Linked DNA regions of Homo sapiens. The protein of the gene in region 1 interacts with the protein of each later gene in a biochemical or structural test. Each region holds a gene or a part of one and is shown in the gene's direction. Other genes may lie near its edges.

Region 1 (3,919 bases):
ACCCAGGACCGAGGTGCAGTGGTGCATTCATAGCTCACTGCAGCCTTGAACATCTAGTTCATACAATTCTCCTGAGTAGCTGGGACTATAGGCAGATGCCACCACGCCCAGCTAATTTTTGTTTTTTTTTGTTTTTGTTTTTTGTATTTTGTTTTTTATAGATGAGGTATTGCTATGTTGCTCAGGCTGGTCTTGAACTCCTAGCTTCAAGCAACCCATCCACCTTGGCCTCCCAAGTGCTGGGATTACAAGTGTGAGCCACTGCACCCGGCCTTTCGAGGCAATTTTCTTTTGGGGTCTGTCTCCCTCCCCCAATTGTGGGCATGGCTTGTTCTTATTTTCCGCAGGAACTTCCATAGTACTTCTGTGGACACAGGAGGATTGGAAAGATGTTGGTGGGTGTATGAAGGGGACGTGAGGACGCAGGACCCACGTGTTGATGGCAGCAGAGGGGACACCGAGGAGAGAGAACAAGGGAGGACCGTGCCACAGAAGCCGTGGCGTCTCTGCCTGGGGCTGGCGTGGTTGGAGTCTGTGGAGAGTGCCGCCCCTCCGGCCAGCCCTTGGCCCTGGCACATGCTGGTGACACCAGGTTCTCCAGCAAGCCCCCTTCACTGTCTGCTCCCCTCCGAGAGCAGCAGCAGCCGGTCCGGCCTCTGATGGTTTTCCAGGGGCGGTTGTGACTGTCGAAGTCTGACCGTAGCCCATCCTCTTTGGATCGTCTCCCGCGACCTTGGTTTTCCGCCCACCCGGTTCTTTTCCGTCCCCACTCTGGCGGGTGCGCTCGGGATTGTTTTTGCAGGGGGGAAGTGACATCATATGGTGTCCTGGGCTGGAGGGGTGGGGGTGGGGACCCTGCAGTTGCGTGTGCTTTGAATTCAGCCGACGGTTGTACATTCCAGTAGCCGGCATCTGGCGGTGAATTCATCAGCCAGTGTATCACCCTTGATCTCAAACCCAGATGTTGTGTTCACAGCAGAAGGGAAAGAAGGAAAAACGAAATCTGAGACGCCCAGGGAGAGGCCGTGGTTTCTGGGCTCAGGGCAGTTAGAACGAGAGTCTTTATAAAGACTCCCCCTCTCGCAGCTGCCTCTGGCTCCTTGGGGAAGGGGCAGAGGAGCAGAGCAGCCCCTCTCGGGGGCATGGACAGGAGATGGGCTGACACCCACCCCAGTGCCTAACACCAGGCCCAGCACCCAGTAGGTGTTCAGTAAACGTGTCTGTGCCACAATTTTCATTTCTTCCCAGATTCCTTATGTCTCTTCGCTTTCCCCAGCCCTGTTCTTCACATGGCCTGGGACTCGGAGAGGCCCTCCCTCTTTTGAAGTGGCCTGCTTTCCCCTACAGAACTGGTGGTCCATCCTGGAGCTCAGAGTGCGGACCATTGCCATTGGCATGGAAATGTATTCCGGAGAGCTCTCTCTCCCTCCTCCTCTGTCCACCACTGGGCATTGGAAACTCTCCTTCTCTGTGTTCCTATCCATCGTCTGTCATCTTGCCTGGATTGGATGCTCCTCCCAGGCAAGGCCTGCTGTATGCAGGATTCACCCTGTACCCTCTCTTCACCTGCTGTCACCTCTGGGCAACAACCCCCGACAGGTACCCGCTGCTCTGAGCAGGTCAGCGGTGCAGATCCCGCTATGCCAACTGGTGTGCACCGATCAGAGCTGTCAGCTGGCCCCTCTCCTTCATGTCTGCGGCGTGCTGGTGCTTTGGGGAAGGTTGCCGTGGAACTGGTCCTTCTTTGCCTCTCTTGATTCCCATTTTCCTTCTTTCATGTAATTTCTCATTTTGCAAAGTGGGGGAGGAGGTGCCCACCCCCAATTTAAAGGGACCCTGAAGAATCTGAATTCTGTTCCCCAGGGGCAGACTAAAGCAGCCCAGGGGAGATGGAGATGCCCTCAGGCTCTGCTCCTCCAGGCCCCTCACCCCCACTTCCCTGCCCCTCACCCCCACTTCCCTGCAGGCATCTGGCGGCCTCCTCGCCAGTTCACTTTCTAGTCCTAACCCCACGTGGCTACCCTGGACCCTTGATTTGACCAGCCTCCTCTTTTCTGACACTTTAAAGAAGGAAAGTGTGTAATCTGCAGCCCCCAGGCAAAGCTAGCACGCTGGGAAGCTGCATCAAATCGAGAGTCTGTGGCCTGCTGACCAGGACCGGGTCTGTGTACCTGAGTGGCATGATGCCACCGTCCCAATCCCTCACCCACGGGAGCGGGAGAATTCGCCCTGCTTGTCTATGCGATGCTCGTGGTCCTGAACTGTACACGCATTAGTTCCCGGGCACCGCAGCCTCCACACCAGCCCCTCTAACAGTCACCACGACCTTGTGAAGTGTCAAGACTGTTGTCATCGTCTCTGTCTTAGGTGTGAACAACTGTGGCTCAGTGAAGTCAAGGAGCTTCTCAAAGATCACGCAGCCATCCAGGGGTGAATGCAGGATCTCTGTCTCTTGCTGCCTCCTTCAAATAAGTGCCCAGCTGCCACCTGGGAGCCTTAGGCGTTTTTGTAAGAGAACAGCATGTGAACCTCAATGCCCATGGTAGGATGCAACATTTTGGCCGTTTTGAAGTAATCTTTGCTTATTTTCTGAACTCCAGTGACATGCTTGTTGAGTGCCTATTGTGCGTTAAGCATTGTGCGGCTTAGTGGACCATTGAAAGGCAGCTCCAAGGCCGGGCGCGGTAGCTCATGCCTGTAATCCCAGCACGTTGGGAGGCCGAGGCAGGCGGATCACGAGGTCAGGAGTTCAAGACCATCCTGGCCAGCATGGTGAAACCCCGTCTCTACTAAAATAAATACAAAAAATTAGCCGGGCATGGTGGCGCGTGCCTGTAATCCCAGCTACTTGGGAGGCTGAGGCAGGAGAATTGCTTGAACCCAGGAGGCGGAGGTTGCAGTGGGCCAAGATTGCACCATTGCACTCCAGCCTGGATGACAGAGCTAGACTCCATCTCAAAAAAAAAAAAAAGAAAGAAAGAAAAGAAAAGCAGCTCCAGAAATTTCCAAAATAACATACAGAATTCAGCAGACTGTAATAAAGGCCGGCTTGCTGCTCCTACTGGAACTGTTGATTCCTTTGGATTCTGCTGGCTTGCTTTTTTTCCTTTTCTTTCTTTTCTTTTTTTAAAAGACGGAGTCTCACTCTGTTGCCCAGGCTGGAGTGCAGTGGCATGATCTCAGCTCACTGCAACTTTCACCTCCTGGGTTCAAGCGATTCTCCTGCCTCAGCCTCCCAAGTGGCTGGGATTTTTGTATTTTTTGTAGAGATGGGGTTTCACCATGTTGGCTAGGCTGGTCTCAAACTCCTGACCTCAAGTGATCCGCCCGCCTCGGCCTCCCGAAGTGCTGGGATTATAGGAGTGAGCCACCGTGCCTGGCCCTGGTTTGCTTGTGAGCTGGTGACTCTGCTACATGAAGAGCAAACTTTGACCAAGTTAATCTGGCACATTGACTAATTTGCATAAACATTTTTGGTGCAGCATTGTCGTAAGGTATATAGATTAGGCAGGGAGCAAGAGAGCCAAGGACAAACTGCACCTGGGCCACCAGCCCAAAGTTGTCAGCGTCATCTCAGCTCCATCTGGCAAAGAGTTAGTGAGCACCAACTGTTCTGCAGTCAGAATCTAGCCTCAACCTGTTAGGACCTCCCAGGGCCCTGAGCAGACAGGTGTGCAGGAACTGACAGCAGGATGGAAAAGAGATGGGGAATATACCAAGTGCTGCAGAAGGACAGGATTTCCCAGAGGAAGACAGAAAAGGGCTATTTTAGCTGGGTCTTGAAGAATGAAGAAAAGTTCTCCAGGCAGAGAGGGGAGATGGCATTTGGGGCGGAAGAAACTTGCCTGTTCAGGCTGGGTGTGGTGGCTCACACCTGTAATCCCAGCACTTTGGGAGGCCAAAGTGGGCGGATCACTTG
Region 2 (3,919 bases), on another chromosome or scaffold:
ACATCCCTGAAAAAAAAGATGATGGCAAAGAAGAGACAATGCTAGCTAATTGCAGTTTGTCTCCCAAAATATTTTCCCAGAAGCTTTTAATTAGTTCAATGTGTATACTATATTTTACTAGGGGTCATGGTGTATTTAACCAATGAAAATATTAAAAATGAAACCGCGGCCCGGCGCGATGGCTCACGCCTGTAATCCCAGCACTTTGGGAGGCCGAGGCAGGCAGATCATGAGGTCAAGAGATAGAGACCATCCTGGCCAACATGGTGAAACCCCGTCTCTACTGAAAATACAAAAATTAGCTGGGCATGGTGGTGCATGCCTGTAGTCCCAGCTACCCAGGAGGCTGAGGCAGGAGAATCACTTGAACCCGGGTGGCGGAGGTTGCAGTGAGCGGAGATCACGCCACTGCACTCCAGCCTGGTGACAGAGTGAGACTGTCTCAAAAAAAAAAAAGAAAAGAAAAAAAAAGAAACAGCAATTTAATAAATGTCATTTTTTGACATTGAATATTAATAGGTCAATGAGAAAATATTTCTTAATTATATTAGTTGTGTGCCCAGCATTGCCAATATACTATTAAATTTAATTCTATCCAAAGGATTAATATTTGCTACCTAAATTAAAATAGTTAATTGTGTTATGTTTTGTGTTTTCTCAACAGATTGGATTCTTCAAAAGACCACTGAAAAAGAAAATGGAGAAATGAAATATTTTATGAAAGAAAATAATAACAATTATTCAATAATCTATCCTCAGGTTTGCCTCAAATATGTGACAAGAAATGTATAATTCATGACATAGTCATGTAACTATGTAATCCATCAGGGATTCATTACTTGGAAAATGACAGGTCATGCATTATCCAAAAACAATACCAAAAAGACATATTTTATAAAATGACAAAAAATATTTTACATAATTACTCATTTTTGTTGAGTAAGCAAAATTACAAAGTGTTTTTAAAAAAACCTGTACAAATATGTTTATGTATTAAATCACCATCCAAAATATTTAAGGAATATATAAAAAGATTTTTATGATCATAGAAACATCTATTTTCAAAACAATATAAATTAAGCTTTTCCCCTTGATTCCTGTTGGATATCCATGTTCAGCATGACAGTCAGCACTCGTAAATGCCAAGAAAAGAATTACCTGAAAAAGATCATTTCTCCCTATTCAAATGAGAATATTTTCCCTTGGTAGAATCCATATACAATATGGATTGAAAATTAAGTCACCAAGAATACATTTAGCATCTTTGTGTTGGGTTCTATACCTAAAAATTTTCCCTCCCTGCCCAAGGTGATTGGAAAGTACTGCAATTGAGCTAAAATTTTATCTAGGATGGAAAATCAGGATAGACTCGTTTAAAAACAAGTATATTAAATGGGTTAAATTAAGCTTTTACAGAACATGCTTAATTTTGATATTGAGCTCTAAATGCAAAACTCTTTTATACTGAAAAAACACTTAAAGTAGTTTTGTGTGGCATCACAGTGATTTGTCATGAAAAGCCATATATGGGGGACATGCTAAAATGGCTTCTGAATGAAATACGACAGCAGAGAAAGATGCCACTGAAATGCTGAAATTATCTTTGCTGAGCAGCTTTTGAATGCTAAGGGTTCCAGTATGTGACCCAAAGAAAGAGTTGTCTCAACTCCTTGGTACAGGGTTCATTCAAACCCCCAAGCTGTGAGAGTGTGTTTATTTTTAATTTTTTAAAAGGTATTTAATTTCCAACCACACTTCTTATTTTTTTGAAAAGACAATTTTCCATTTCAGTATTACATTTTACCAAGAAGTCACTGCTTTTTAGGTGTGTTGCATCAATATTTAAATAAAATCCCAGAAATGTATTTTAAAGAATTTCAGGTTTGAAAACTCAAACCAACAGGAAGATATCACACCTTTGTATGTGCTTCTTTGTTCTTGAAGTAGTCATTATGGTTCATTGGAATCTACTGTAGCATAAGCTCCTAGGTTGCTCCATTTCTTAGGAAAATAGCAATGAATGAATGTATAGTAGCTGCATGTGTGAACTACTGCTGTAAAGTTTGCTGACATTTCTGCAACAACATTTCTCCATCTGATTTACCAGAACCTGTAACAAGACCAGAACATGTATTCATCCAGAAACTCCTGGGCTCTGCTTTGTTCAAAGAGGAGCAAATCCACATAGAAATTAAATGTTATAAATTTATTTTTTTAAACTAATTTCCAAAGAATTTAGCTGAAGACTCAGAGTCAGCCTACCTCTTGACTCTCCACATCCGCATCTAAGATCCTGAAGGCCAAAGGAATGCGCCTGTGGGATGCCAAAGCCATCAGTAGCTGGAAGAAAGAATACCTCTTTCTAGAGGTTTGGTGTCCTCTTGCTGGCCTGTCATTATTTGGAAATACGCGCTTTTGGAATTTCCTTCATTTTCGCTATTTCCAGGTTCAGAAATCATACCTACCACTTGTTCTTTCTTTGCCCAGTAAAACTCAGGGTTTCTCTTATTCAGAGTTACCATGTTGCACACCCCCAGTGCTCAGCCTGCCCAGAAGCCCTTCTCTGATCTCAGCAAGATCTTAGTAGTAAAGCTAACGGATCCATTGAAATTCATACTCAGCATCTGTGACTACTAGACAAAGCCCATTTACTGAACCATAAGTGTGCACTTTTAAACTAAATTGTTAACTGAAAGGGAAAAAATAGAAATGAGGGCATTTTGAAGTTTTTAGAAAAGAGAGGAAGAGCTGTTGGCCAGATCAAAGAGATACTTATAAGCCCGGCACAATTTTTAACATAAGTCATTCCTGGCTATTAAGTAAAATATTTCATGAACCAGAAGTCCTGTTTCTCTAATATTATAATTTGTTGAGGTTTGTGTGTGTGTGTGTGTGCATGTGCAGACACATGTACACATATAAATTGAATACAAAAATAGCTCTATAACACCAAAAAACAGAGTTTACAGAAAATAAACACAAAAGCTATATCTGCAAGACAAGTTTGATTCATCTAGTTTCATATAGTTTCATATAGTTTCATTTTTATTAATATTTAGGTTTAACTTATAGTTCTGCAATTATTTAAAAAACAAGTACAGAGCGTTTGATTAAAAAAAGTCAACAAATGTTTCAAAACAGCTTTGTACAAATGTTATAAAACATATTTAATGATTAAGAAATGTACTAGACTCTATCATTTACTTTTAAAACATTTAATTAGAAAAACAGGTGATATTTAAGACTATTTATAAACTTATTGGCCAAATTGCCAAAAAGTTTCTTTTTCTCTAACTTTGGTATTCTAAATAATTGATTATTGCTCCCATTGTAAACTGAACCATGTATGCACTCTCTTTTCTGACCAAACTACAATGGTATATTGGTAAATTATTTAACAACACACTGTCCAGGAGGGAAAAAAAAAACAGTCTCTGATTTGTATCATTTGCCAATTTCCATGGTCCAAATATTCTCTCTCCATTTTCAAACTACCAAAGTGACCCTAATCAGCTTACAAAATTCCTGGAAATGTATCTGCCACCTCTTACCAACCAGTGTGAGCTGACTTCAGCACACCACTGAGACAGATTACACGATAGACAGATAGATAGATAGATAGATAGATAGATAGATAGATAGATAGATAGATATTGATAGAGAACATGTTGTGTCTATATACATATCCAATGACACACAGTATAATCATGTTTTAAATTATGCCAAAAGTACTGATTATATCAAGCCCAGTAAACATAATGCTACACAGCACCCATTCTTTAATTTTGATTTCTAAAATTATAACCTTCCTTTGATATTAATAAAATGTTATGAACTTGCAGGAGAAGGAAGGAGTTGAAAGAAGGAAAATATAAAGGGTGATCCACAGTGAAAATCAGACCTACACAAGCCACAAAAA

The links.
Region 2: the proteins of TIMP2 (region 1) and ITGA1 form a complex in vitro, tested with the Homo sapiens proteins (one study listed by BioGRID).

What each region holds. Positions count from the first base shown.
Region 1 is NC_000017.11:78,876,760-78,880,678, reverse strand, and holds part of TIMP2 (metalloproteinase inhibitor 2 precursor), read left to right. Parts: intron 1-3,919. UniProt on the Homo sapiens protein: Complexes with metalloproteinases (such as collagenases) and irreversibly inactivates them by binding to their catalytic zinc cofactor. Known to act on MMP-1, MMP-2, MMP-3, MMP-7, MMP-8, MMP-9, MMP-10, MMP-13, MMP-14, MMP-15, MMP-16 and MMP-19.
Region 2 is NC_000005.10:52,951,743-52,955,661, forward strand, and holds part of ITGA1 (integrin alpha-1 precursor), read left to right. Parts: intron 1-664; coding exon 665-709; 3' UTR 710-3,919. UniProt on the Homo sapiens protein: Integrin alpha-1/beta-1 is a receptor for laminin and collagen. It recognizes the proline-hydroxylated sequence G-F-P-G-E-R in collagen. Involved in anchorage-dependent, negative regulation of EGF-stimulated cell growth.